7 separate regions of the Homo sapiens genome follow, and regions 1, 3, 4, 5, 6 and 7 are each linked to region 2. The links come from fine-mapping of genetic effects on gene expression. A gene starts in region 2. Each other region holds a variant in brackets. All regions are shown on one strand. Distances are from middle to middle.

Evidence for each region.
Region 1: its variant is fine-mapped to the expression of UPF3A in whole blood (INTERVAL, PIP above 0.99).
Region 3: its variant is fine-mapped to the expression of UPF3A in whole blood (TOPMed, PIP above 0.99).
Region 4: its variant is fine-mapped to the expression of UPF3A in whole blood (INTERVAL, PIP above 0.99).
Region 5: its variant is fine-mapped to the expression of UPF3A in whole blood (INTERVAL, PIP above 0.99).
Region 6: its variant is fine-mapped to the expression of UPF3A in whole blood (INTERVAL, PIP above 0.99).
Region 7: its variant is fine-mapped to the expression of UPF3A in thyroid (GTEx, PIP above 0.99). The same link has a PIP of 0.9 or more in tibial nerve.

Annotation. Positions count from the first base shown.
Region 1 is chr13:114,333,851-114,337,949 of GRCh38, forward strand. LINC01054 (long intergenic non-protein coding RNA 1054) reads right to left here and starts at 98. Exons shown (of 3, transcript NR_126391.1): 1 at 1-98. The variant C/T (reference allele first, on the strand shown) is at 2,299.
Region 2 is chr13:114,279,257-114,283,355 of GRCh38, forward strand. It overlaps UPF3A (UPF3A regulator of nonsense mediated mRNA decay), which reads left to right and starts at 2,345. Exons shown (of 10, transcript NM_023011.4): 1 at 2,345-2,590; 2 at 2,765-2,871; 3 at 3,581-3,687. The coding sequence starts at 2,384. LOC105370384 (a long non-coding RNA gene) reads right to left here and starts at 1,813. Exons shown (of 4, transcript XR_007063887.1): 1 at 847-1,813. RefSeq lists enhancers at 1,573-1,872, 2,326-3,013 and silencers at 2,093-2,362, 2,593-2,772, 3,153-3,362.
Region 3 is chr13:114,228,344-114,232,442 of GRCh38, forward strand. No RefSeq gene overlaps it. Among named protein-coding and RNA genes, the nearest start is that of CDC16, 4.5 kb to the right of the region's middle. RefSeq lists an enhancer at 1-490. The variant G/A (reference allele first, on the strand shown) is at 2,513.
Region 4 is chr13:114,236,180-114,240,179 of GRCh38, forward strand. CDC16 (cell division cycle 16) reads left to right here. Exons shown (of 18, transcript NM_001078645.3): 2 at 466-520; 3 at 620-717; 4 at 2,811-2,849; 5 at 3,171-3,311. Among named protein-coding and RNA genes, the nearest start is that of CDC16, 3.3 kb to the left of the region's middle. The variant C/T (reference allele first, on the strand shown) is at 2,118.
Region 5 is chr13:114,251,200-114,255,199 of GRCh38, forward strand. The region is part of intron 12 of CDC16 (cell division cycle 16); the gene reads left to right. LOC105370384 (a long non-coding RNA gene) reads right to left here. Exons shown (of 4, transcript XR_007063887.1): 3 at 1-137. Among named protein-coding and RNA genes, the nearest start is that of MIR548AR, 8.7 kb to the left of the region's middle. The variant A/C (reference allele first, on the strand shown) is at 1,623.
Region 6 is chr13:114,173,302-114,177,400 of GRCh38, forward strand. No RefSeq gene overlaps it. Among named protein-coding and RNA genes, the nearest start is that of CFAP97D2, 3.9 kb to the right of the region's middle. The variant G/T (reference allele first, on the strand shown) is at 2,342.
Region 7 is chr13:114,299,852-114,303,923 of GRCh38, forward strand. It overlaps UPF3A (UPF3A regulator of nonsense mediated mRNA decay), which reads left to right. Exons shown (of 10, transcript NM_023011.4): 9 at 1,880-2,174. Among named protein-coding and RNA genes, the nearest start is that of CHAMP1, 13 kb to the right of the region's middle. The variant G/A (reference allele first, on the strand shown) is at 2,093.

The DNA of each region.
Region 1 (4,099 bases), 55 kb after region 2:
ACAGTAAAGTGGCAACCTAAGAAATGGGAGAATGAATTCCAGGAGCAGGTGATCCATGCAGGAGAGAGGAGCAGCATTGCCGAGAGCCAGGGGTGAAGCAATTCAAGCTGGAGACACTGAGACAAACACAGGGGCGCCTGGCATTCTCTCAGAGGCAGTACAGTGGTTCTCACAACTCAGTAAATGTGGTAATTATCTCTTATCTGGTTACAATGCATCTTCCCAGGCCTGCCAGCAGGGATTCTAAATCCTGATGCAAATGATGTGGCAGCACTTGTGGTTATAGACATGAGTGTTTGAATCACAGATCCAGGTCCAAACCCAAATCCCCTCAGTAATTAACTGTATGCTGTCATTCAATTACTTAATCTCTCCAGCACGCCACTTCCTCAGGCCAATTCATATGGGAATATAAATTCATAGGAGTGTTATAAAGGGTAGTTTGTACAATGAGCTCGTGACTATGAAATGCTTAGCATGGCATCCAAAAAGTCCTCAGTAAGTGGTGCAACAATACCTTTTTATTACAGAAAACACACTCAACCTAGAAAACAGTGTTCATAGGGGATTCAGAGAAGTAAGTACAGTTGGGTGAGCAGAGCAAGCCAGCGTGGAGAGGGTCTTTCCTAGGTGAGGCCTCTACCACATTTGAAAGTGGGATGCAGGGCAAGAGCTCAACATCAACCAGGACGGGCAGGAATGAAGTAAATAGCTCACACCTGTTCCTTCATGGGTCAGTTCCTTTCATTTTCACTTTTGACTCTGATGCAAAATTAGAACTCTGCTCAAATGTCACTATTCTTAATAAAGTAAAGTAAATAAGTAGGATCCAAAAACTTCAATTGCATAAAATACGTGCTCTTATGACAAGGCAAATGGGAAATATTTTGCAGTTGGTCATTGCCATCACAATAACACAAATTCTAAAACTTATACTGTTTACAACTGAACCACACCCTCAAATAATCAAAAAATGGTCCCTCCCTAAACTCTCTCCCCAGGAAGAGAAAGTCTTTGGCTGCCCCAACCTGAGCAGGAAAGCAGGTGGAGAGGGGGAGCCCACAGCTACAGTGGCAAGAAGTCTGAGGGCTGAGGGCTTTGACCAAATAATAGGGAATTGGGTTGAGTTGTTTGAATCATTTTCCAATAACTGACGTATAAAATAGATTCATTGAAGGAGCTGGGGAATGGGAGCCCACCCCTCAGTCTCCAGCCTCCCCTCAGTCTCCAGCCCCCCCAAACTACATGTTTCTCCAGAGTAACCTTGAGCCTCTCCCAGCATGGATTAAAACCCATGGCTCTTCCAGATCTAAAATCTGAGGCTCTACAATTTAAGTCATAGTTAGGCACTTCCATACCTGTGATGGTAACATTCTTACATACTCAGTCTATCATTGTTTAATATTGAATGAAAGACACACATTTTGTTTACTTATTATGCAGCAGCTAGTCTGTGTTCACCTGCGTTGTCTCAGGGTCAGCTCTTTATTTCCAAGAATCCTGTCCCATTTCCTGGAGCCTATTGACCGGGGGAAAGATGTGGTCAAAAGTTAAAGGTATGTTGGGCAAAGCCTTAGAAACAGCTTTTCTGACAAGCAATGGGGAAAAGACCCCGTTCAATAAATGGTGCTGGGAGCTGGGCCCCTTTCTTACACCATACACAAAAATGAACTCAGGATGGATTAAAGACTTAAGTGTAAAACCCAAAAATATAAAAACCCTGGAAGACAACCTAGGCAATACCATCCTGGACATAAGAACAGGCAAAGATTTCGTGACAAAGACACCAAAAGCAATATCAACAAAAGCAAAAATTGACGAGTGGGATCTAATTAAACTAAAGAGCTTCTACACAGCAAAAGAAACTATCAACAAAGTAAACAGGCAACTTACAGATTGGAAGAAAGTATTTACAAACTATGCATCTGACAAAGGTCTAATATCCAGCATCTATAAGGAACTTAAACAAATTTACAAGAGAAAGACAACCCCATTAAAAAGTGGGCCAAGGACATGAAGAGACACTTCTCCAAAGAAGACAAACATGTGGGCCGGGTGTGGTGGCTTACGCCTGTAATTCCTGCACTTTGGGAGGCTGAGGCAGGTGGATCATGACATCAGGAGATTGAGACCAACCTGGCTAACATGGTGAAACCCCGTCTCTACTAAAAATACAAAAAATTAGCCGGGTGTGGTGGTGGTCGCCTGTAGTCCCAGCTACTTGGGAGGCTGAGGCAGGAGAATAGCATGAACCCAGGAGGCAGAGCTTGCAGTTAGCTGAGGTCGCGCCACTGCACT[C/T]TAGCCTGGGTGACAGAGCAAGACTCCGGCTCAAAAAAAAAAAAAAAAAAGATAAATGTGGTAAACAAGCTTATAGAAAAAAGCTCTAGATCACTGATCACTAGAGAAATGCTCATCAAAACCACAGTGAGGCACCATCTCACACCAGTTAGAATGCCTATTACTAAAAAGTAAAAAACCAACAGATGCTGGCAAGGTTACAGGGAAAAGTGAACACTTATACAATGTTGGTGGGAGTGTAAGTTAATTCAACCATGGTGGAAAGCAGTATGGTGATTCCTCAAAGAGCTAAAAGCAGAACTACCATTCGACCTAGCAATCCCATTACTGGATATATACCCAGATGAATATAAATAATTCTACCATGAAGATACATGCATGCAAATATTCATTGCAGCACTATTCACAATAGCAAAGACATAGAATCAACCCAAATGCCCATCAATCATGGACTGGATAAAGAAAATGTGCTACATATACACCATGGAATACTATGCAGCCATAAAAAAGAACAAGATTATGTCTTTTGCATTAGTATGGATGAAGCTGAAGGATATTATCCTTAGCAAACTAATGCAGGAACAGAAAACCAAATACAGCATGTTCTCACTTATAAATGGGAGCTAAATGATAAGAACTTGTGAACACAAAGAAGGAAACAAAAGACACTGGGGTCTACTTGAGGGGGGAGGGTGGGAGGAGGGAGGGGAGCAGAAAAGATAACTATTGGGCACTGGGCTTAATACCTGGATGATGAAATAACATGTACAACAAATCCCTGTGACACGTGTTTACCTGTATAACAAACCCTCCCATATACCCCCCAACCTAAAATAAAAGTTAAAAAAAAAAAAAAGGAACACAGCTTTTTATTTTTTTCTCTTTAATACCATAAAGGTCATGGGCCATTTGCCACCTGAACAGTCAGTAACACATGAGTGTAAAGAAACTGAACACCCAGGGACACCAGAGACCGTTCACTGTAGAGGAAGGAGGCAGGTATAACTCATAAGGTGAACTTCCTCCAGTCCCAAAGTGGTTCCCCTCTCCTTAAATGCGGGTCCCATGGAATTCAGATTTAGAAGTGAAGCAAATGAGAATAGCTCACAGGGGAGCAGTTCAAATGTGCCGAAAAGGATAGAGCAGCCCCAATAAGGAAGGAAGGCCAGACAAGCAATGGATTTGTAGGGAAGACAATGTGCACCCATCAGAGCTCTGATTCCTTCACTTCCACTACCCTGCCCTGCCCACTAACTTTGAAAAAATATGGATGGCAAGTGTTGGGCCGTAAGACATTTCCTTGCTTTATAATCTGGATTTAGTGGGTTAAATTTCAGAGATAGTGAAAACATCCCCCTTTAGTTAACTTTTAATTTCATAATTGTACCTTTTTTTTTTTTTTTTACAGATATTTGAACATGTAAAACAAAGAAAAGAGTACGGAAGTAATTTATAATCAACAAATATGTGTTCACTGAGTAAGTGATACTGACATGGCATATGGCATACAAGCATCCTGAGAGTAGGATCATGGGGCATTCAATGGTGATTGTCCCTAGAGCTGGTTAGGGCCCAGCTTTCCACTGTCCTTGTACTGCTGCGTGTACAATCGGTGTCTTCTTTAACTTCACAGAGATGCCACAAGGCAAATAGCATTGTCTTCACTTTCTGTGTAAGAAAACTAAGGCTCGGTGAGAGTATGCAGAGCTGGTTCATGGATTTGTTTGGGTCCTTCTAGTTTCAAAACCCGTGAATATTTTCCTGTCTCTAATGCTAATCTTAGCAATATATTTGGAATAAG
Region 2 (4,099 bases):
TGTCGTACTGCCAAGTATTGTTCCTGTTACTACCCAATTCTTCAGTATCTCAGGACACAGTTTATCCTAAAAAGGTGTCCTGTTTGCTAACTACAGTGGCTGTGTTATCGTTAAAGGAAATACTGGGAAGTGTTACGGTCACCAGCTTCAAGTCACTGTCATCTACCAATGAGATAGGGGCTACCAAGTAAAATGTAGCCCAGGGCCACATTCACAGATGGAAGTGTTCAGTTAAGCAAAAGTAAAGTTACATACTAAAAGCCCACATGAAGAAGGATTTGGAGATATTTCTTCCTGCTTTGCTTTGGCTGTAAAGTTCTGTACATGTATCAAACAGAGCATTTCAACAGGCTGGCTAATGTGTAGGAAGCTAGCTTTTCTTTGTGATATAATTTGTCATGTAAAATCATAAGCTATTTTACAAGTGTATTTCATTCACTGTATCTTAAAATTCATATGGTTTTATTTAAAGATAATTTCATCAAACAGCTGAATTCTAAAATCCTACCTTTTTTTCAAAATCATTTTTCAGAACTTTGCAATAACAGGAAGTAAAGAATCAGAAGGGTGTTAAAAAATTGACTTGGGGGGAAAAACATTTGGACATTTTGCTGGCTAGGTTTACGAAATATACACATCCAGCAAACATGTGAGTCCCTTTAGGGTACAGTGCAGTGAAGGGAGAAGTGGAAATACTCAAGGTTCTGGGGAAGGTCAAATGAAGGGTCCCTCACATTGGCTGAGGCCAACCTGGCTTCAGAGGTGTGCAGAGGCACCAGGCCGAGAACAGGGCTTTGCAGTGGTGAGGGCAAAACATGAACACAAGAAATACCCTAAGTTACTGACCTGGTTGTGCCTGGTGACAGATGGGACCAGCTCTTTTCTCCATTTGGTAATTTTGGAAAATTTGGCAGAGTTAATAAAGAAATCCCCTTGGTGCAAGATTGCTACAATAAGAATCTATTATAGATGGCAGATGTGAAGTTCACAGTCCTTTTTATTATCCTAACCTAGTAACATGACTAGAGGTAAAATTAAATATTGAGTTAGATGATTGTTTAATATTTTAAAACCAGAGGGAAGACATACAAATAGATTGAGAGCAGTTTCTTTCTAAAGATAATCAGAATATATCTCCTATATTTTAAACACTGCAGGAACAGTCAAAATTTTAAAATAAATGGTTTCCACATTTTTTTATCCCCATCTCTCCCCCTGACTATATAGTAAAATATTTTATTTGGCAACCACGTTTTCCTACTTTTAATCACACATCATCAGAGCTTTTCATCAGCCTAACTAGTCTTCCTACTCACTGAGTTGTGACGAAAGCCTGGTCTAGGCACTTTTACCACGGCCATGTTTTTGTTAAGATCCCTGCAGACTGTGAACTATGAAAACCAGCCCCTGGCCCCGCTTGTGGGTGCTGCAGAGCCGCGTGTGAACTGCTCCTAGGAAACCGCGTCTCTGGGCAGGGTGGCTCTCGGGCCGTGGATCCGCCTAAAAGCTTTTCTGCCAGTGACGCCCTTGGTCTCTGGATGTGTTCACGCCTCAGTGATTTTACTCTCTGGTTTCTTGTGTGTGCTTGAGATTCTTGAGAGAAAGCGTGCTGCAGATGAAAAATGCAGCCTACATGAAAAAGAGAAGGGGAAAGCCATTTTAAAATAACTTCCATGTAAGTTACTGTAATCAAAGTGCTGCTGCCTGTGTGTTCATAAAAAAATATGTGCAAGGGCCCGGAGCGGTGGCTCATGCCTGTAATCCCAGCACTTTGGGAGGCCGAGGTGGGCGGATCACTTGAGGTCAGGAGTTACCGAGACCATCCTGGCCAACAAGGTGAAACCCCGTCTCTACTTTAAAAAAACAAAAAAATTAGCCAGGGGTGGTGGCGCGTGCCTGTAGGTCCCAGCCACTCAGGAGGCTGAGGCAGAGGCTGCAGTGAGCCGAGATCGCGCCACTGCACTCCGGTCTGGGCGACAGAGCGAGACTGTCTCCAAAAAAATTAAGAATTCAAATGTGAACCCGGCTTTCATGGCGCCCCGGCCACGGAGAGCCTGGGGGAGTGGGATAAAAACGGTGCTGGGATGGGAGGGCGGCTTGTCCGCGAACTCCTCCCACCACGCCCGGACCAAAGCCGCCGGCGCCCCGCTTCCGGGGCCGCCCTAAACCGCGGCCGCCGCTCCCTGAGGGGCCGCCTGACCCGGCGGAAAGCCAGGCTGTGTGGCCGGAGGTCACCACCCCGACCCCGACTAGTCCCGCAGCGCCTGACCCCTTCGTGGGCGGCCCCGACCGCCGCGGCTCGAGGAGGGGCGGGGCTGGGGCGGCCGAGCTCTCGCGAGGTTTCGTCGGGGGCTGGCGGCTGCGGCTCGGCGGAGAGTGCGGCATGCGCTCGGAAAAGGAGGGGGCCGGAGGCCTTCGGGCGGCCGTTGCCGCGCGGGGCCCGAGCGGGAGGGAGAAGCTGTCGGCCCTAGAAGTGCAGTTCCACCGCGACTCGCAGCAGCAGGAGGCTGAGACGCCGCCAACTTCGTCCTCCGGTTGCGGGGGCGGTGCGGGCAAACCTCGCGAGGAGAAGAGGACGGCCCTGAGCAAGGTGGGGACGGGGGCGGGGCGCGCAAACCTCGCGAGGAGAGGACGGCCCTGAGTGGAGGGAGGGGAGGGAGGGGAGGGAGGGGCGGGGGCCGGGCCTCCCAGCGCGGTACGCGGTGCCTTTTGAGCTCCTTGTCCACGCTCCGCCCCGGTGGGAACGGCCGCGCGCTCCCCGCAGGTGGTCATCCGCCGCCTGCCTCCGGGCCTCACCAAGGAGCAGCTGGAGGAGCAGCTGCGCCCGCTGCCAGCACACGACTACTTCGAGTTCTTCGCCGCCGACCTGAGGTGAGGCCCGCCCCGAGGGGAGGAAGAGAGGGCGGAACCCAGAGCTCGGCGGCGGTGGCCGTCTCGTTGCCTTACGTTCCTTACCCTGATTTCTCCTATATGGGAGTCGTGTGAGCTTTTTGAATAAATACATTTCAGTAAAACGTGTCCGTTCCGTCAAAGAAAAATACCACCAACAAAGAAACACAGATGTGGTTTACATGAAAAATGCGGATGATTTTCAGACGGCTAACGCTTAGGAAAGCGGGTGCCTTTGAAAGGACCAGCGTTGCCCGCCCGGCGCCTCCCGGGCTTCCCTGCTCGTCCGCGGACGGGGCGCTGCGGGGCCGGGGGGCGCCGGCTCTTCCTGTGGCCTCCACGCTGGTGCCGCAGCCAGTGCGGTTTTAAATACCGGAGAAGGTCCCCAAGTCAGGAGAGTCTCTCGGCGCCACGGGTTCCTCTGGGAGTGCGCCCTGGCCTTGCCTTAGGGTTTCAGCCTCGGAGGACCGGTTCTGGGCAGTGGAGAAGGGACCTGAGTTCTGCCTTGTAAAGTTAACGTTTTGCGTTTGTTTTTGCTAAAGAATATCCAAGTTGTTACAATTAACTGAGATGATTTGGCACAAAAGTTTTATCTAAAGTAGTTTGTTGTGCCCAGAAAAGGAAAAAGAGGCTAAATTAATGGACTATTGTATTTTTCACTGACCATTTTCACTGTTATCTCTTATTTCAGTCTTTATCCTCATCTCTACTCAAGAGCATACATTAATTTTAGGAATCCTGATGACATCCTTCTTTTTAGAGATCGTTTTGATGGATATATCTTCCTTGACAGCAAAGGTTGGATTATTGGTTTTTAAAAATCTATTATAATCTGTAGGTATACTAATGAAGTATTGCTAGAATATTCGTGCTTTTTAAATTATTATTATTTTTTGAGACAGGGTCTTGCTCTGTTGCCCAGGCTGGAGTGCAGCAGCCGCAATCACGGCTCACTGCAGCCTCACACTGCGGCTCAAGCAATCCTCCAGCCTCCTAGGTAGCAGGGACCACAGGCGTGTGCCACCATGATCGGCTGATTTAAAAAAAAAATTGTGTAGAGACGGGGGTCTCACTGTGTTGCCCAGGCTGGTCTTGAACTCCTGGCTTCAAGTGATCCTCCCACCTCAGCCTCCCAAAGTGCTGGGATTACAGGCGTGAGCCACAGCATCCGGTCTATTTGTGCATTTTAATTAAAAAGTTCTCAGACTAA
Region 3 (4,099 bases), 51 kb before region 2:
CGCTCCTGGCAGAACACTGGCACAGGAGACCAAAGTACACGTGGATGAGTCAATCAGAAGAACAACTTGTACTAGAAAGTGCTTTCCCAAATTTGACATCAAAATTGAGACCAGTGAACACTTTCATGGCTCATGACAAAGTTCATATCCACCTAACACAAAACGAGGGCATTATTCAGTTAATTTGATATACTAAAAAGATAATCAGATAACCAGCTAGAGATTATGACACTTCTGAATTGGCTGTTACCCTCATGTCGACGGGGCTGGACCCGTGTCTGTGGACAGCAGTCTTTGAGAAGCTGCAGCGGGAGCCTGTGCAGGATGACTAGTGTTGCAGTGTCCTGGGGGTGGTGGGACAGGATGCTAGGAAGAAAAGGCGTCCGGCACCTCAGGATGCTCTGTCCGGGTGGCTCAGCTTGCTTCCCGTAGCCTCCCAGTCCTTTTACTGAAGTTTCAGGAGGTGATGCTTGGGACGCCAGGCCTGGCAGATTCCTCTCCAGGCTTCCCTTCACCCCGCAGAGCTTCCCCGCACTGGCAGAACTCGATCACTGCCACCCAGAGGGCATTGTCTCTGAAGAGGCATGGAGAGTGGGGAAGCTGCAAACCCCAGGCTGATGTTCTTGGTGTCCCCACAGCCTGCTTTTGCCTTAAAACCCCAGGTATACTCACAAATGGGTACAACACCCAAGAGGCCATTGTCAGCTCAGGGACTTGGTTTTAGGTGCGGCTTTGGGAACTTGCTTAGGTAAGTTAGCCTTGCTGGGTCTTATTTTCCACATCAGTAAGTGCCACGAAGCTTAACATTTATAAGCCAACAGAATGCCTCAATTTTAATTAACAAACATTAATTATCAATCATTTTTTACCTGGATGGAGGTTAATTCAAAGGAAAGGTATTAACCCAGAGGGTTTTTCTTTTTAAGAGTGTTATTGTGGTGCCCATGTCCCGGCGGGGAAGCTCTGAGCTTCCTCTGCCCAACTCTGCAGGCGACGCTTATGGCCCCGTCTGTGGCGTCCAGGTGCACCTGGACAGGTCTCCAAGGCAGCGCTGGAGCAGATTTGCAGCCACAGGGTGTGGAGAAATGCAAGATGAATTGAGACTTGATGTTTGGATAGATGTTAATTCCAAACTTGAGAACTGTCTTTGTAAAATGACAACAAAGACGTATCTGCCAATCATTGACTTCTTAATCACTGCCTTTGCTCTTTCAAAGCCTCAACATTTTGCAGTTTCAGCCAACAGAATTCTCTAACTTTGTAAACTGCTCTCCTGTGGCGACAATACCACCTCACTCTAATCAGTGAGAAGGGTGATTGTTCTCTCTTCCTTTCAGAGTAATTTAAATTCTTGAGAAACCACTTGGCATGTTTAATATTCTGGTCATACTGAAAATCCAAGTCTTGTTTTCCTGACCGTATTTCAGGAACTAGTTTAAGGACGGAATTATCTTTTAAAACCACAAAACAAAGATTTTTACACACTGAATTTCACAAAACTCAGTATTGCAGAATTGCAAACATGCTCTGTGACTCAGTCTCCAGGGCTTAACTTCCCCCTTGTAGTAACTTTAGAGGGTCCTGAAATTTTAGCTTCTTTAACAAGGGCAAATACTGGGAGAGAATGTAAGGGGAGGAAAATAAACAGAATGTCTTCTGTTAGACAAGCCAGCCTCTGGCATGTACACATTTGGCAGAGTTCTAATTTTGTTTGCTAACCTCCGATCACTACCTGAAATGGGTCTCTGCAGGATATCAAGGTGTCAGCAGCGCTGTGCTCCTGGAGCATCTAGGTGAGAATCCCGTCCCTGGCCTTTCCCAGCTTCAGGAGGCCACCTGCACTCCCAGCTCACTGTTCTTCCTTCTTTCCTTCCTCCATCTTCAAAGCCAGCGGCGTAGCGTCTTCCAGTCTCTTTGACTCTGACCCCCCGGCCTCCCTCTTTCACTTGTAAGAACTCTTGTGATTACATCATACCCACCCACATAACCCATCTTAACTTAATCACCCCTTGCAAAGTCCATTTTGTCGTGTGAGGTAATACACAATATTTATGAGCCCTATCAGTTTAACCAATTAGTAAGTGTGGTAGAGGAAATACAACGATGGAAGGTTTAACCTGAGGAAAGAAAAATAGCTCAGAGCAGTCTGAACTATTTGAAGGATGCAAAATGTATCAGGACATGAGTGTGGGACTAACTTCAGTCACTCTGCTCCCCATGCCACAGGGGCAATTGTTTAAGGCATTTTGTTCCTGACTGCTGTGTCACCCATTATTTTCATGTTTCTGGAGTCTGTGAGACAAAGAAAAATGTATAGTCAATCAATAGCTTACGTTGTTTTAATGTAAATTTTTGATAAACAACTCAGGAACTGCCCTTTCTTTCCTCCTTAAACCCCCCGCCCCCAACCAGGTACCTGCTGCTGGTTGGGTGCATACTCAGGGAAATTCAAATCTGTGCTCCCAGGTGGTCATCCTCAGGGCTTGTGCTCAAATAAACTCCATGCTAACTC[G/A]TATTTTCTGAATCTTTCTATCTAAGGTTGACAAACCTAAGGGGCATCATTCTAAAATCAGTAAACATGATTTTGCTGTAGGCTATTACAGGTATAGAAGGGAAGAAAAGCACAAGAAATCTAACCAAATATAGAGACTCCAGGTCATTCTATTAGAATGTGATGTGGTTTGGATCTGTGTCCCCACCAAAGCTCATGTGGAATTATAATCCCTGCTGCTGGAGGTGGGGCTGGTGGGAGGTGGTTGGATCGTGGGGGTGGAGTGCCCATTGCTGCTGGCGGTGGGGCTGGTGGGAGGTGGTTGGATCGTGTGGGTGGAGTGCCCATTGCTGCTGGAGGTGGGGCTGGTGGGAGGTGGTTGGATCGTGCGGGTGGAGTGCCCATTGCTGCTGGCGGTGGGGCTGGTGGGAGGTGGTTGGATCGTGGGGGTGGAGTGCCCATTGCTGCTGGAGGTGGGGCTGGTGGGAGGTGGTTGGATCGTGGGGGTGGAGTGCCCATTGCTGCTGGAGGTGGGGCTGGTGGGAGGTGGTTGGATCGTGGGGGTGGAGTGCCCATTGCTGCTGGCGGTGGGGCTGGTGGGAGGTGGTTGGATCGTGCGGGTGGAGTGCCCATTGCTGCTGGAGGTGGGGCTGGTGGGAGGTGGTTGGATCGTGCGGGTGGAGTGCTCGTGAAGGGTTTAGCACCATCCTCTACTTGGGACTGTATAGTGAGTGAGTTCTTGTGAGGCCTGGTTGTTGAAAAGTGTGTGGCACCTGCCCCCTCTCTCCCTTTCTCTTGTTCTGGCCAGGTAAGTTGTGTCTGCTTCCCCTTCGCCTTTCGCCATGATTGTAAGTTTCCTGAGACCTGCACAGAAGCAGAAGCAGCTATGCTTCCTGTACAGCCTGCAGAACAGTAAACCAATTAAACCTCTTTTCTTATAAATTACCCAGTCTCAGGTGTTTCTTTTTATCTTTTTTTTTTTTGAGACGGAGTTTCACTCTTGTTGCCCAGGCTGGAGTGCAGTGGTGCAATCTTGGCTCACTGCAACCTCCGCCTCTGGGGTTCAAGTGACTCTCCTGCCTCAGCCTCCCGAGTAGCTGGGACTACGGGCATCTGCCACCATACCCGGCTAATTTTTTGTAGTTTTAGTAGAGATGGGGTTTCAGTATGTTGCCCAGGCTGGTCTTGATCTCCTGACCTCACATGATCCAGCTGCCTCGGACTCCCAAAGTGCTGGGATTAAAGGAATGAGCCACCGGGCCTGGCCTCAGGTGTTTCTTTACAGGAATGTGAGAACAGGCTAATACAGAAAATTGGTACTGAAAAGTGGGGCATTCGTATGAAGATACCTGAAAATGCGGAAATAACTTTGGAACTGGGTAATGGGCAGAGGTTGGAAAAATGTGGGGGGCTCAGAAGAAGACAAGAAGATGGGGGAAAATTTGGAACTTCCTAGAGACTTTTAAATTGTTGTGACCCAAATGCTGATAGTGATATGGAGAGATGGGCAGGCTGATAAGGTCTCAGATAGAGATGAGAAACTTACTAGGAACTGAAGCAAAGGTCACTTTTGCTGTGCATTAGCAAAGAACCTGGCAGCATTGTGCC
Region 4 (4,000 bases), 43 kb before region 2:
GTGTGTGTTTTTAAACTTGAGTGTTATTAAAACTGCCACTGTGTTATATAAGGTATTTGAGTATAGTGTTCTGTCTTCTAAATTTCACTTTGGGATTCATTAACAGCTCGTTGAAAGTGTTATATAAATCACACATGAATTGTTAATGACTAGCTTTTGCTGTTTCACTTGCATTTCACTTGTATGTTTCACGATACATTTTTACAGTGTATGAGTTTTAAAAAATTACCTTCATAAGTTGCATATACAAAGATATTACAGGAATGTTTGTATTGCGACACTGAACTAAAATTTACCCTACGTGAGATGTAAGATAGAGATGTAACAAATTGTTGTCTTGAGATGAAGATTTATTACATAGAATTATATTAATATATTACATAGAATTATAATAATATTAGATAACTGTTTAAGACTATTAAAATAACAGGGCAGTTACCACCTTTTTTTTTTTTTGGTATGCAGCAACAGTATCAAAGTGCTCTATTTTGGGCAGATAAAGTAGCTTCACTCTCTCGTGGTAAGTGACAAAATGCTAACTGGTTTTCTGATTAATCTTAAAATTCGTTTTCTATTTCACCTTGTACCTCTGACCACTTATGTGAATTTTTCCCTCCAGAAGAACCCCAGGACATCTATTGGTTGGCTCAGTGTCTTTACCTGACAGCACAATATCACAGAGCCGCCCATGCACTTCGGTCACGAAAACTGGACAAAGTAAGTGATGGTATGAACTTTAAAGCTCTTCAGAGCTTTAAAAAAAATGTCATTAGTGGCCGGGCGCGGTGGCTTACACCTGTAATCCCAGCGCTTTGGAAAGCCAAGGCAGGTGGATCATGAGGTCAGGAGCTCAAGACCAAGATGGTGAAACCCCATCTCCGCTAAAAATACAAAAATTAGCCGGACGTGGTGGCAGGCGCCTGTAATCCCAGCTACTCGGGAGGCTGAGGCAGAGAATTACTTGAACCTGGGAGGTGGAGGTTGCAGTGAGCTGAGTTCGTGCATTGCACTCCAGCCTGGACAACAGAGCAAGACTCTGTCTCAAAAAAAAAAAAAGTCATTAGGGTTTTAGGTGTATATTCCATTTCTGTTGAAATTATTTAACTTGATGCAATTTTTCTTTGTTTTTGTTTTTTTGAGGTCTCTCTGTGTCACCCAGGAGTGCAGTGGGATGATCGTGGCTCACTATAACCTCAGACTCCTGAGTTCAAGTGATCCTTCTGCCTCAGCCTCCCTAATAGCTGGGACTACAGGTGCATGCCACCACACCCAGCTAATTTTTAAATTTTTTTGGTAGAGACAGAGCCTCACTATGTTGCCCAGGCTAGTCTTGAACTCCTGGTCTCAAGCAGTCCTCCCGCCTTGGTCTCCCAAAGTGCTGGGATTATAGATGTGAGTCATCACAGTAGGCCCAGTTTTTTTTTAGTGAAAGTGAAGGGAAAATGTCTTATACCTAATCTGTCACCTTCTTTTTCCCCCATCTCCCATCTAGTCTCTAAATTCTGAAGACTGTTTTCTAAACAGCTCTGGAATCATGGATATTCCTCTTCCTCCCCACTCGTACGTGTCAGGCCTTTGATTTTTTTGTCTGTTCTGTTACAGCCTCTCTTCTTGTCTCTTTTCCCCAGTAACAGTTTCTCTCTTCTTATCTTCCCTGTCACAAGTTCATCTTGTGAACTATTACAGGAGTGAGTAGTCTTTAAAACACGGATGTGGTTATATTCCCACAAAGTCATTCAGTGACTTCCCATTAGCTGCAGGATAAAGTCAGATGCATCAGTAGGTCTGTGAGGCCCTCCTTGTTTTCTCTCCACTCTGCGTCTAATCCACCACCATCAATACCTGGAGCACGTGCTCCAGTCACGTGGTGCTGCTGTGAGCTCCTTGGACACCCAGCAGTTATTCACACTCAGGGCCTGAAGTGGAGCTGCTGCGATCTCCTTGGACGCCCAGCAGTTATTCACACTCAGTGCCTGAAGTGGAGCTGCTGTGAGCTCCTCGGACGCCCAGCAGTTATTCACACTGAGGGCCTGAAGTGGAGCTGCTGCGATCTCCTCGGACGCCCAGCAGTTATTCACACTCAGTGCCTGAAGTGGAGCTGCTGTGAGCTCCTCGGA[C/T]GCCCAGCAGTTATTCACACTCAGGGCCTGAAGTGGAGCTGCTGCGATCTCCTCGGATGCCCAGCAGTTATTCACACTCAGTGCCTGAAGTGGAGCTGCTGCGAGCTCCTCGGACGCCCAGCAGTTATTCACACTCAGGGCCTGAAGTGGAGCTGCTGCGAGCTCCTCGGACGCCCAGCAGTTATTCACACTCAGGGCCTGAAGTGGAGCTGCTGCGATCTCCTCGGACGCCCAGCAGTTATTCACACTCAGTGCCTGAAGTGGAGCTGCTGCGATCTCCTTGGACCCCCAGCAGTTATTCACACTCAGTGCTTGAAGAGCTACCCAGTGCTCCACTCCTCTGCCTGACCACTTACTCGCTGCCTCACTTACTCGCTCTCCTGCAGATGTTTACTTCTCCACCTGGTTGATGCTTTCTGTTGCCCCGTTTCGTCATGCTTACCTGTTGTGCTTAGTTCACATCTCCCCTACTGTAACCTCCTGGGGCAGGGCCTTACTGCTTTTGAATCCTTGGTGCCTAGTAAACAGTAGGTTCATAATAAATATGGTTTAACAGGACTGGATTTTTTTTTTAACTGCAAGAGTAAAAGGAGAAATTATGAAATTAGTTCTATTTTATGCTTATGGCTTTCTTTGAAAGTGAAGATACATATTATTTTGACCACTACTTAAACAAATTAATTTCTTTCCTAGTTGTATGAAGCATGTCGTTACCTTGCAGCTAGGTGCCATGTAAGTATGCTCATAATTTCATTTTTATTTGGTTGAATAAAATGAGTGTTATGCATCTCTTAAATATGTGTGAGAATTTTAGTGATGGAGCTTAGCAGGTTAGTAAAGTATTTCATGAGGAAGTGTTCCTTTCCTTAGTCATGTTTGCTATAAAATACTGATTCTTCGTTTACCACATGCTGACATGCATGAAGAAAATTCTACTTTAGACATTTCACATTTAAATAATGGGCATAGTATATGTTATCCTTTAAAAATTCGGATCATGTGTTTCGTGTTAGAAGTCGTGAGTGATGAGCGGCACTTCTGTTTTCCACGTAGTATGCTGCAAAAGAGCACCAGCAGGCCCTTGATGTTCTTGACATGGAAGAGCCCATCAATAAAAGATTATTTGAAAAATACTTGAAGGACGAAAGTGGCTTCAAAGATCCTTCCAGCGACTGGGAAATGTCACAGTCTTCAGTAAGTAGTACTGTGAGCACAGCTCAGTAACGGCGGCGAGAATTGCCCTCATTACGTGGCAGAAACACATTATCTTCTTTTACTTATTACTATATTAAAACAATTGTGGTTGCCAATTTATTTAATTTGCCCACCAAAACCAAAAAAGATTCTGAGACATTTCTGAGCCCTTAGTTGCAAGCTGTAATTGTATCCGCAGATGCCTGCATCCAAAATAGGCTGGCTTGAAACTTCCTTCTCATATTTGATGCCTTAAGCTACTCCCTAAAAGTGGAATAATTTTTCTTCTCCTTTCTGTGTTTCAGCAGTGTTTTGGACCTACACCAAGAAACTTTGATTAGCGTACATTGTTTCTTTCCAGGAAATGGTTTTGTGTTCTGTTTGCTTCAAAGTACATTGCTATGTAATTGTGTATATTTCAGTTTGTATACTTCATATCTCCATGAAATTGCACATTCCTTGCTGGCAGACATCATATAGTAACTTATTAAGTGACATTTACAGATCACTAATCTGGATTTAAAAAAAAAAATAAAAACTTATTGAGGTATAATTTATATGCCATGCAGTTCCCCCATTTAAACTGTATGGTTTGATTCCTTTTAGTGTATTCACAGAGCTTTGCAAACCTCACCATGGTCAATTTTAGAATATTTTTATTATTCAGAAAGAATCCCTGTAAGCCTTAC
Region 5 (4,000 bases), 28 kb before region 2:
GACTGATGACTGCATCCCTGCCTGGAGAGGTAGTGGGAGTGCAGTGGTCCAGAGGCCTGGTCTGGAGTCATACCTCCTGGACTCTTCCTGGCTCTTCCACTCCCAGCCATGTGACGTTGGGCAAGTTTTTTAGCCTCCTGAGAAATAGGAATAATAGCAAAATTTACTCACTGGCTTATTGTGAGAAGTAATTGAGATAATACCAATTAAAGACTTTGAAGAGTGTCTTACACATAGAAAGCACTCAGTGAAAGTTAGCTACTTGTGTTTATTTACTTGTATGCAGGGGTGGAATCATATATTTATCTGTATTGAATGTCATCCTGTTAGGTTTGGTCTCTTTGCAAACTGTTAGGCTCTTTTTGTCACTCAGTTCTGCGTTTAAATTAGTACCCACCTCAGTCAGTAGTCATAGTAACTTGGTAAGTATCATAGCTCCTTAGCTGTATTAGTCAGTAGGGCTGCCATAACAAAATACCACAGACTGGGTGACTTAAAGGACATTTATTTTTTCATAGTTGTGGAGGTTGAGAAGTCCAAGATCAGGGTGCTGGCCAGTGCAGTTCCTATTGAGGAGTCTCTTCCTGGTTTGTAGATAACTGCCTTCCTGCTGTGTCCTCACATGGCAGAGAGAGCTCTGGTGTCTCTTCCTCTTGTAAAAACACTAGCCCTATTGGATGAGAACCTTACACGAACCCTATTGGATAAAAGCCTTACACTAGCCCTGTTGGATAAGAGCCCTACACTAGCCCTGTTGGATAAGAGCCCTACACTAGCCCTGTTGGATAAGAGCCCTACACTAACCCTGTTGGATAAGAGCCTTACACTAGCCCTGTTGGATAAGAGCCCTACACTAACCCTATTGGATAAGAGCCTTACACTAGCCCTGTTGGATAAGAGCCCTACACTAGCCCTGTTGGATAAGAGCCCTACACTAGCCCTGTTGGATAAGAGCCCTACACTAGCCCTGTTGGATAAGAGCCCTACACTAGCCCTGTTGGATAAGAGCCCTACACTAGCCCTGTTGGATAAGAGCCTTACACTAGCCCTGTTGGAAAGGAGCCTTACACTAGCCCTGTTGGATAAGAGCTTTACACTAGCCCTGTTGGGTAAAAGCCATACTCTTAGGACTTCATGTAACCTTTATTATCTTTTCATAGGCCCTATCTTCAAGTACAGGCACAGTAGGGGTTAGGGATTTAATGTATGAATTTGGGGGGCAGAGGGGACACAAACAGTCCATAGCACTAATATATTACTAGAAAATAACCTTCCAGAGTAGAGTTGCACACCCAGTTATGGATCCACCTAAATGGTCCTCATACTCAGTCCAGGTCTCTCCATCCTGTTCACCAAGATGAGTGAGACCTTTTCCAGTTCTCTTCTGAAGCTCAGCTCCAGTATCTGCATATTTCCCCTATGTATCAATATGATAATTTGTTACCAAAAAAAAAATCTCAATAATTCACTATGAGTTGGTTTTTATGAGCATATGCTACAGTCTGGTAATTTTTATTTGATATTTTGGGTTCTCAGAAACAGAATAGTTATTAGTTAGTTCCTAGCTGGGAATCAGAATCAATGATAATTAATGACACAATACCTTCAGTGTTTCCAAATCT[A/C]ACAAACTTTGTCATTAAATTCTCACATTAAGCTAGGTGTGGTAGCTCACACCTGTAATCCCAGCACTTTGGGAGGCTGAGGTGGGAGGATTGCTTGAGGCCAGGAGTTTGATACTAGCCCTGGCAACATAGTGAGACCTTATCTTTACAAAAAAAAAATTTAAAATTAGCTGGGTTTGATGGTGCCTGCCTGTAATCCCAGCTATGCGGGAAACTGAGGCAGGATGGTCACTGTGCCACCACAATCCAGCCTGGGTGACCAGTTGAGATACATCTCAAAAACCTCATGATAGCTCATCAAGATAAGCATTATTTTTCTTTCAAGTTTACTTATCTGTCAGAGCAGCTCTGCATTTTCTTAACTTGTCTGTGTTTGGATAAATGTTTGAAATTGGATGAATATTTTTACGTGTCCTTTATGATTTCTTTTTTGAGTCATTGGTTATTTAAGAATATGTTGACATTTAACTTCCACATATTTAAGAATTTCCCAAATTTTCTTCTTTTGTTGTTTTTTAACTTAATTCCATTGTAGTTAGAGAACATACTTCGTGTGATTTTAGTCCTTTTAAATTTATTGAGGCTGGCCGGGCGCAGTGGCTCACACCTGTAATCCCAGCACTTTGGGAGGCCAGAGGGGTGTGGATCACTTGAGGTCAGGAGTTCAAGACCAGCCTGGCCAATATGGTGAAACCCCATCTCTACTAAAAATACAAAAATTAGCCGGGTGTGGTGGCTCACGCCTGTAGTCCCAGCTACTCGGGAGGCTGAGGCAGGAGAAGCTCTTGAACCCAGAGGCAGAGGTTCCAATGAGCTGAGATCGCACCACTGCACTCCAGCCTGGGCGACAGAGTGAGACTCCATCTCAAAAAAAAAAAAAAGAAAAAAATTATTGAGGCTTTTTTATGAGCCATTCTATAGATTGTTCCAGATTATTTGAGAATTCTGCTCTTGTTGGGTGAAGTGTTCCATAGATACCTGTTACATCTGATTTTATAGTGTTGTTGAAGTCTTCTCTTTCCTCATTGATCTTCTACTTATTTATTCTCTGCATTATTGCAAGTGAGGTATTAAAGTCTCCAGATTTTATTGTTGAATTGTGTATTTCTCCCTCCAATTCCGGCACATTTCACTTCATATATTCTGAGTCTCTGTTGTTAGGTGTGTACATGTTTATAATTGTTGTATTTTCTTGATGGATTGAGCCTTTTATCATTATAAAATATCACTAATTATCTCTAATAATACTTTTTTTTATAAAGTCTGTTTCATCTGATGTTACTGTAGGCACACCAGCTCTCTTTTGTTACTGTTTATATGGTGTGGTTTTTTTCATTCTTTTAATTTCAACTTGTGTTTTGAATCTAAAGCATGTCTCTTGTTGACAACATACAGTTAGATCCATTTATGTTTAATTACTAACAAGATAGGATTTATGTCTGGCGTTTTGTTCTTTATTGTCTATACATCACATCTTTTGTTCCTGTATTTCTTCTTTTGTGTTGAGTAAATATTTTATAATGTCCCATTTTAATCCCCTTTTTTTATTATACTATATCTTTTGAGTTATTTTCTTAGGTTGGTTATCTTTAGGATTATAATTAGCACCTTAATTTAAAACGACCTACTTTGAATTAATACCAATTTAATTTTAATAGTACGCCCAAACCTTACTCCGATATAGCTGTTTCCTCTTGCCTCCTTGTGCTGTTAGTGTCATATAGAATACATCTTACACATTATAAGTCCATCAGCACAGATCTGTTATTATTATTTATTCTGTTGTCTTTTAAATCAGATAGAAGAGTTAAAAACAAGCACATTTTATACTGTCTCATAATTACCAATGTAGCTATTTTTATCAGACTCTCATTTCTTCGTGTTGTAAACCAAAAATAAAATTTGAAGACCCTCCCCAACCATCTAAATGGGCTTCCTCCTCTAGGCCAGGGCCGTCTAAATTTAACCTGAAAGACTGGTTCAGGCCATGATGGGAAGTGGGGGTCCAACACTCCTCTTTACGCCCTCCAGCATTAACATCAAATGGACCTTCAGTCTGATAAGAAGAAACACTTACCATCTATCCTCTCTGAAGCCTGCTACCTGGAGGCTTCATCTGCATGATAAAATTTGGTCTCTGCAACCTCTTATCATAACCCAGACATTGCTTACTATTGATAATAACTCTTTCAACCAATCAGAAAAATCTTAAATCTACCTGTTACCTGGAAGCCTGCACTTCGAGTTCTTAGAGTTTGACTCTTCTGCAACAATGTGGATTTGAATTCCTATGTAGTATCCTTCTGTTTTAGCATAAAGGACTCCCTTTAGTATTTCTTACTGGGCAGATGTACTAATGACAGATTTTCTCAATTATA
Region 6 (4,099 bases), 110 kb before region 2:
ACAGCAGATCCGAAAAGACTCTAGCACGGCCATGTAGTGGAAGAATATTTATAGACAAAGAAAGGGAACTGACGTACAGAAATTGGAAGTGAGGTACAGACAGCTGGATTGGTTACAGCTCAGGGTTTGCCTTATTTGAACACAGTTTGGACACTCAGCAGGGTGAGTGGTTGAAGTACAGCTGCTGGAATTGGCCAAGACTCAGCTGTTGTTACAGGCTCAGACTCCTAAATTAGGTTTTCAATCTTGTCTACCTATTAAGTTAGGCTGCAGTTTATCCACAAGGACTCATAAATCTGGAAGTACAGAGTCCTTCTTGGGCCATATTTAGTTGCTTTAACACACCTATAACAAATTAACTTTACCAAGGTGTCTTCCAGTCTCAGCTTCTCACATGCTAGTAAGAGGAAGTTTTTCCAAGGTATCTTCTGGGCTCAGCTCCCCACTTACTGGTAAAAGGAGCAGTTTTGTGCATATCTTGCTGGGTTTGTCTTTCCAGTCATCACAAGAGTGGCTGCACCACACCCCATCACTTTCTGTGTGGAGTGGGCCCAGCTCCAGCTCTGTGCAACAGTAAACCAGTGACACTGGAATTCATGTGTTTATACACTCAGCTTTCACATGCTTCTGCATCAATTTTTTAAGACTATTTCCAGAGTGGGATTGAGACCTAAGTGAATCGTCCCAGGAATAGGGTTCTTGAGAAATGATTGCATGAGTAAGGCTGCAGTTAACACCACCATGACTAATTACCAGCAAATTGAACTCCTTCTGTTCTGTGAAAGTTGCTAGTACCAAAATAGGTTCACTCATATCAAACTCTAACAAAATGGGGTGGGGAGGCCATGACGGGGCGCCCTCATACACAAACACCTGGACAAGCCTCATCTCAAGGCACCCCTGCACGGGCCTCAGGTTCGCCCATATTAGGATGCATTGCACGAAAATTCCTCAAGACAGGTCGGTATTACAGGTGAGCGGCCTGCACAAGGAGCTAACGCCAGCTCTGGGACAAGCTCTGCTAACCAGTGATTTTTGTTACAAAGCAGCTTCTGTGGAGTTCTCTCTGTCTTTAAAGATCTCCCCTTTGCCCTGGCCCCTCCAGTGTGCCTGTGATCTATCATAGCATGCAATCCCGTGCTATTCTCACTTAAATTTATTTGTTCTGGAGAGCCTGTTCCTTTGAATTTCCTTTTAGGTGGACAGTTCAAGACCCCTAACACATTAATCCACTTAATCCAAAGAGCTCCTCTTGTATCAGGGAAGGCCACAGGGACATCCCTGTCTTGTTCCTGACCTTGGAATTGCATTGCTTAGTTTCCAAACATGGGATTTCCCAGTTATCTTTTGTTATGAATTCCTGGCTCTCTGCCACTGTGAACATTATCTGTATGATTTCAGCCCTTTGAAACATGTGGACACTTTTTCATGGCCCAGCATACGGTCAAATTTTGCAAATGTTGTAAACATTCTTTCTGTATTGAAAACTTTTATGGTTTCCTGTACTCTGCAGCTATTTCCGATTTTGTCTTTTGTGCCTTGAAGCAGAGTGAGTCTTATCATCTGTGTCTGAGCCATCTGCTCCAAGGTTCCTGTGGTGCTAGTCGTGTCTTCTCTGCAGGATTGATTCACTTTGCAAGATGTTTGGTGCACTGAGACACTGGAAAGTTGGCAGCATCTTGAGATGTCATCAGTCCAGGGCCACGTTAAGATAATTTCGCGACTTGAGGGTTTTTTAGGCACTGTGACATTAAGCTAATTTCACAACTGTGTGAACCTGGGCCGCAGGGCTCTTCCTTGTCTTGTCCCCTGCTCTGCTGTAACCTGGCAGTTGTTGAAGGATGGGTTATTTCTGATCCACGTTTTCCTGAGGGTGAAGACTTCAGCTCCTATGAAGACTGCCCACCTGCCCCATCCCCCACAAAGACCCCACCGCTGGCATCCTGAGTGCCTTCAGGAGAAGCCCTCTGAGTGCTGGCTCGGGGGTCTGACAGATTTTTTTGACCACAGCCTCAAAATTCCTGACTCCTGGGTGGGCTCTTCAGTATATGCAAGATGGCCTCCAGGATTCTGGCTTTGTTCAGTGGAAGGGTCGACTTAAGCAGGTCACGCAGCAGTTCCTGGTGGTGGTGACTCCCAGCTTCTTTAGCTCAGCTCTTGAGTGATTTGCACTACACAGAAGGTACTGGAGACACAGTTACCTTTTCTGGAAATCAATGTTTGCAAGCACATTTGCCCTCCAAAGGTTGAAGGTTGAGTGAATTTGAAGTGGTTGGAGATTTGTTTGTAAACCACTCTTCTGCAGAATGAGAACGAAGTTGCTGCTTGGTTTTGAAGATAC[G/T]GCCTTTTGTGGGAGGGCAGAACAGAAAAATCAAAGCTTGGATTTAGAGTTAAGGACACAGGAAAAGAATTATGAATATTAAAGACTGAGTTAATATGTGTCATATAGCAAATACTTTACATATTGCATGCAACATAGTAAGCTGTTCTATGTAACGGCCTCCACATTTCAGGATATCACTTGGTGACATTTCAAGGCATTTCTAAGAAACAAAACGTTAAACTTAATATTGGGCCAAAATATTGATTAAGGCAGCAGCTGAACACCCAAATATAATCTGGATAATCAAAGTCAAAAATAGGCGTTGGTATTTACTTTCTGTAGAATATAAGTAGAAACTATATAATACCAAACATCCAAACCTAGCCCAGTATAAAAAATAATTCTCCACTTAATATAGAAATCACAAAATGCAGTGTGGTGCCATGGCTTGGATCCCGGAACAGAGGTGCACGGTGGAAGTCCGCACTGCTTCTCAACACTGGACCCCAGACTGCAGCTCACTTCCATGCAGTGTTGCTTCATGTGTGCAAGCCCTTGTCAGTGTTTCATTAGTCCTCAGGACAGATGCCAAGGAGCTGCTGCTTAACTGCCTTGTCTGGTCTGATCTTAAGAAGCAAAACTTGATTGGAGCCCTGTGGTGCCCTGAAATCCAGAGCATGTTGTTGGGGGTGATTGATTTTCCTGGGTCTTTAGCAACATGTCTGATGTTTGCAGATTCTGTACCATGGGCCCTGCCGTCAGTCAAGTCCAAGAGCAGACGTGAGTCGAGTGGTCAGTGGGTTGCAGGTAACCATAGGCCAGCCGAGGGTGGCAGCCGTAGGTGGACAGCTGGGACTCCTTCCCTGTGGGTGACAGCTGTGGGTGACAGCCGTGGGTGGACAGCATGGGTGGCAGCCGTGGGTGGCAGCTAGGACTCCTTCCCTGTGGGTGACAGCTGTGGGTGGACAGCATGGGTGACAGCCGTGGGTGGACAGCTGTGGGTGACAGCCGTGGGTGGACAGCTGTGGGTGGGCAGCATGGGTGGCAGCCGTGGGTGGCAACTAGGACTCCTTCCCTGTGGGTGACAGCTGTGAGTGACAGCCGTGGGTGGCAGCCGTGGGTGGCAGCCGTGGGTGGCAGCTAGGACTCCTTCCCTGTGGGTGACAGCTGTGGGTGGACAGCATGGGTGGCAGCCGTGGGTGGACAGCTGGGACTCCTTCCATGTGGATGACAGCTGTGGGTGACAGCCATGGGTGGACAGCATGGGTGACAGCTGTGGGTGGACAGCTGTGGGTGACAGCCGTGGGTGGACAGCATGGGTGACAGCTGTGGGTGGACAGCTGTGGGTGACAGCCGTGGGTGGACATCATGGGTGGCAGCTGTGAGTGGACAGCTAGGACTCCTTCCCTGAGGGTGGCAGCTGTGAGTGACAGCCGTGGGTGGCAGCTGGGACTCCTTCCCTGTGGGTGACAGCTGTGGGTGACAGCCGTGGGTGGACAGCATGGGTGGCAGCCGTGGGTGGCAGCTAGGACTCCTTCCCTGTGGGTGACAGCTGTGGGTGGACAGCATGGGTGGCAGCCGTGGGTGGACAGCTGGGACTCCTTCCATGTGGATGACAGCTGTGGGTGACAGCCATGGGTGGACAGCATGGGTGACAGCTGTGGGTGGACAGCTAGGACTCCTTCCCTGAGGGTGGCAGCTGTGAGTGACAGCCTTGGGTGGCAGCTGGGACTCCTTCCCTGAGGGTGGCAGCTGTGGGTGGACAGCTGTGGGTGA
Region 7 (4,072 bases), 21 kb after region 2:
TTTTAGGTGGGAAGACTAATGCGATTAGGCTGCCGGCTTCCCAGAGCCATAGTCGTAGGTGTGATTTCTCACTGCCTTTCGTTCAGAGTTGATGAAGTATTTTTTCTACTTCTTGGGAGTTTTGGTTTATTGCTTTGTTTATAAAATTTATATATGATTATCAAATCCATGATTGTGAAGCACTGTGATGATGTTACCGGTGTTGTTACTGTGACAGTTGATGACACAGCAGGACCTACTGCCACGTGTCTGCTGTGAATTCATACTTGGTTACAGATCCTTATGGTCCCCAACAGCCCTGGCAAATGAGCGAAGCAGCCATTTATTTACTATTCATTTAATATTCTGATAAATGCATAAAGATAATTAATCTGCCATTATTAAATGTCAGTTAATTTTACTCTGCACATCATGATGGATGTGCACCTGGGCTCCCAGGACAGCCACTGGACCACTTTAGTCTCAGTCATTTTATCTGTAGAAAAGAAGGTTTATTTTATTTTGTTTTATTATTTTATTTTATTTTAATTTTATTTTTGAGACAAAGTCTCGCCCTGTCGCCCAGGCTGGAGTGCAGTGGCACGATCTCGGCTCACTGCAACCTCCGCCTCCCAGGTTTAAGCAATTCTGCTTCAGCCTCCCAAGTAGCTGGGATTACAGGCACCCGCCACCATGCCTGGCTAATTTTTGTTTTTTTTTTGTTTTTTTGAAACGGAGTTTTCCTCTTGCCCAGGTTGGAGTGCAATGGTGCGATCTCAGCTCACCACAACCTCTGCCTCCTGGGTTCGTGCAATTCTCCTGCCTCAGCCTCCTGAGTAGCTGGAATTACAGGCATGCCCCTCCATGCCTGGCTAATTTTGTATTTTAAGTAGAGACAGGGTTTCTCCATGTTGGTCAGGCTGGTCTCGAACTCCTGATTTTAGGAGATCTGCCTGCCTTGGTCTCCCAAAGTGCTGGGATTACAGGTGTGAGCCGCTGTGCCTGGCCTAATTTTTGTATTTGTAGTAGAGACAGGATTTCATCATGTTGGCCAGGCTGCTCTCAATCTCCTGACCTCAAATGATCTGCCTGCCCCTGGCGTCCCAGAGTGCTGGGATTACAGGCACATGCCACCACACCTGGCTAATTTTTGTATTTTCAGTAGAGAGGGGGCTTCACCATGTTGACCAGGCTGGTCTCCAACTCCTGGCCTCAGGTGATCCCACCCACCTTGGCGTCCCAAAGTGCTGGGATTTACAGGCGTGAGACACCATGCCTGGTCAAAAGAAGGTATTTACTTTGGAGGGTTATTGAGAATTAGAAAATATGTATAAAAAGTACCTTAGCATGGCCAGGCACGGTGGCTCACACCTGTAATCCCAGCACTTTGGGAGGCCAAGATGGGCATATCATAAGGTCAGGAGATCGAGACCATCCTAACTAACACAGTGAAACCCCGTCTCTACTAAAAATACACAAAAAATTAGCCGGGCGTGGTCGCGGGCACCTGTAGTCCCAGCTACTCGGGAGGCTGAGGCAGGAGGATGGTGTGAACCCAGGAGGCGGAGCTTTCAGTGAGCTGAGATCCCGCCATTTTACTCCAGCCTGGGCAACAGAGCGAGACTCCATCTCAGAAAAAAAAAAAAAAAGTACCTTAGTATAAGGCATATTGCCTATCTGTCACTCAACTGAAATGACAGATACTATTACTATGATTTATTCCTCTTTGTAGTGGTTTTTATCAACGCCTGCTGTGTGCCCATCGCAGTGCAGCCTCAGCAGTGCAGCGCTGAGCACTTCGCATGGGTCCCTGTTGTCTGGGAACCTGTGGTCTAGAAAGGAGGGTGGGCAGCCAACCGGCGGTTTACTGCAGTTGCTGATCATTTGTGTTGAATCATAGGTCACACAGCGGCAGTGATAAAGAGCACAGGGATGTGGAGAGATCTCAAGAACAAGAATCTGAAGCACAAAGATACCATGTGGATGACGGCAGGAGGCACAGAGCTCACCACGAGCCTGAACGGCTTTCCAGAAGGAGTGAGGATGAGCAGAGATGGGGGAAAGGACCTGGCCAAGACAGAGGGAAGAAGGGGAGCCAGGACAGCGGGGCTCC[G/A]GGGGAGGCCATGGAGAGACTGGGAAGAGCGCAGAGGTGTGACGACAGTCCAGCACCCAGAAAAGAGCGACTGGCAAACAAGGTTTTTATTAAACCCAAAAAGAAAAATGTGTCTGGCTGTCTTAAGGTCCAGGCTGCATGCTGACCATGTCACCCCCACTTGGCCTTGTGTCTTGGGGAACGCAGTGCTTTGAGCATTTTCAAGAGCAGTTTTTCCTGAAAGTCAGATCCCAGAGTGAGACTAGTCATCATCTTTTCTCAGATAATCAAATTATTTTTCACCAGGAAAAAGAAAGATTTTATTTAGTATAAAACTAGCACGTTTATATGATTCACTTGAGAATAAGATTATTAAATTTACCCTTGAGACAGGAAGGAAAGTTTTAATGATATTTCATGGAGGTTTCTTCCACATTATTAACAACATTCTGATTATTGGTGAATATTCCCATGGCTCACAAACACCTGTAAGTTAGATCTGCACGGACGGTGAGCACAGGACTGTGGTTACCCCCTTAGCCAAGCAAACAACTTTTTTTTTTCAGGAGCTAATTTTTGTTCAGGTTGCATTTTCCCAGCGCAGCACTACAGATGGCATCACCTTTCTGACAGCACCAGGCCCCACCCTGGCCTCCTAGCAAACTGAGGGCTGCCTAGGGTTCCAGTTCCCACTCACCTCCCTCCCCATGTCTAACCCCTGGCAGCCACTGTCTGTTCTCTGCCTCTGTGATTTTGTCATTTCAAGAATGCTTGATAAATGGAAACACACAGTATGTGAGCTTTGAGAGTGGCTTTCTTCACTCAGTCTAATTCCTTTCAGATCCTTCCAGGTTGTTGTGTGTATGAACGATGTTCACTTTGAAACTGTTTCAGTGTAGCTGGGCATGGTGGCTCACACCTATAATCCCAGCACTTTGGGAGGCTGAGGCGGGTGGATCACCTGAGGTCAGGAGTTCGAGACCAGCCTGGCCAACATGGCGAAACCCTGTCTCTACTAAAAATACAAAAAATAGCTGGGCGTGGTGGCGCGCCTGTAATCCCAGCTACTCAGGAGGCTGAGGCAGGAGAATTGCTTGAACCTGGGAGGCGGAGGTTGCAGTGAGCCAAGATGATGCCATTGCACTCCAGCCTAGGCAAGAAAAGCAAAATTACCTCTAAAAAAAAAAAGTTTCAGTGAAGTCAAGGCTGAAAGCCAGAGGAGAGCCTTCTTGTCTTCACCCTTGAATGAACACCTCTAGAATACTCCAGTTCTCTGGGGTTGCCTGGACCTCGGGGTGCACAAAGTACAGCCATGCGTCTTTTTGATAGGGCGTTGCTCATAGGAGTCCTCAGTCTTCAGTTGGCTTATTTTAGCAGTGGTGAATGGCCTGGTGTTTCCCCCGACCTGAGGTGGGGGAGCATTTGCTCCTGTGTTTAGCCTCACAGTGCTGTGGTGGGAATGAGGCGCTGTGTGCAGGAGCTACTTTCCCGGGAGCCTGGCATTTGTCATGTACTTCTAAGGTCAGGCTCCATGCTCCATCTGTGTATACAGGTATTGCCCTGGTAAGAAGCAGAATTGTCGGCCCGGTGCGGTGGCTCATGCCTATAATGCCAGCACTTTGGGAGGCCAAGGCGGGTGGAACACCTGAGGTCAGGAGTTCGAGACCAGCCTGGCCAACATAGTGAAACCCCATCTCTACGGAAAATACAAAAATTAAGCGGGCATGGTGACACATGCCTGTAATCCCAGCTACTCAGGAGGCTGAGGCAGAAGCATCACTTGAACCCAGGAGGCAGAGGTTGCAGCGAGCCCAGATTGCGCCATTGCACTCCAGCCTAGGCAACAAGAGTGTAACTTTGTCTCAGAAAAAAAAGAAAAACAAACAGAGCTATGCGTGCTGGCTCCAGGCAGCCTGTCCAGGGGCCTGCTGAGCCTGTTCCCACCCCTCCCATTGGTCAGGTTCATACCAAGGAAAAGAAAATTAAGTTAAACCCCCTGGT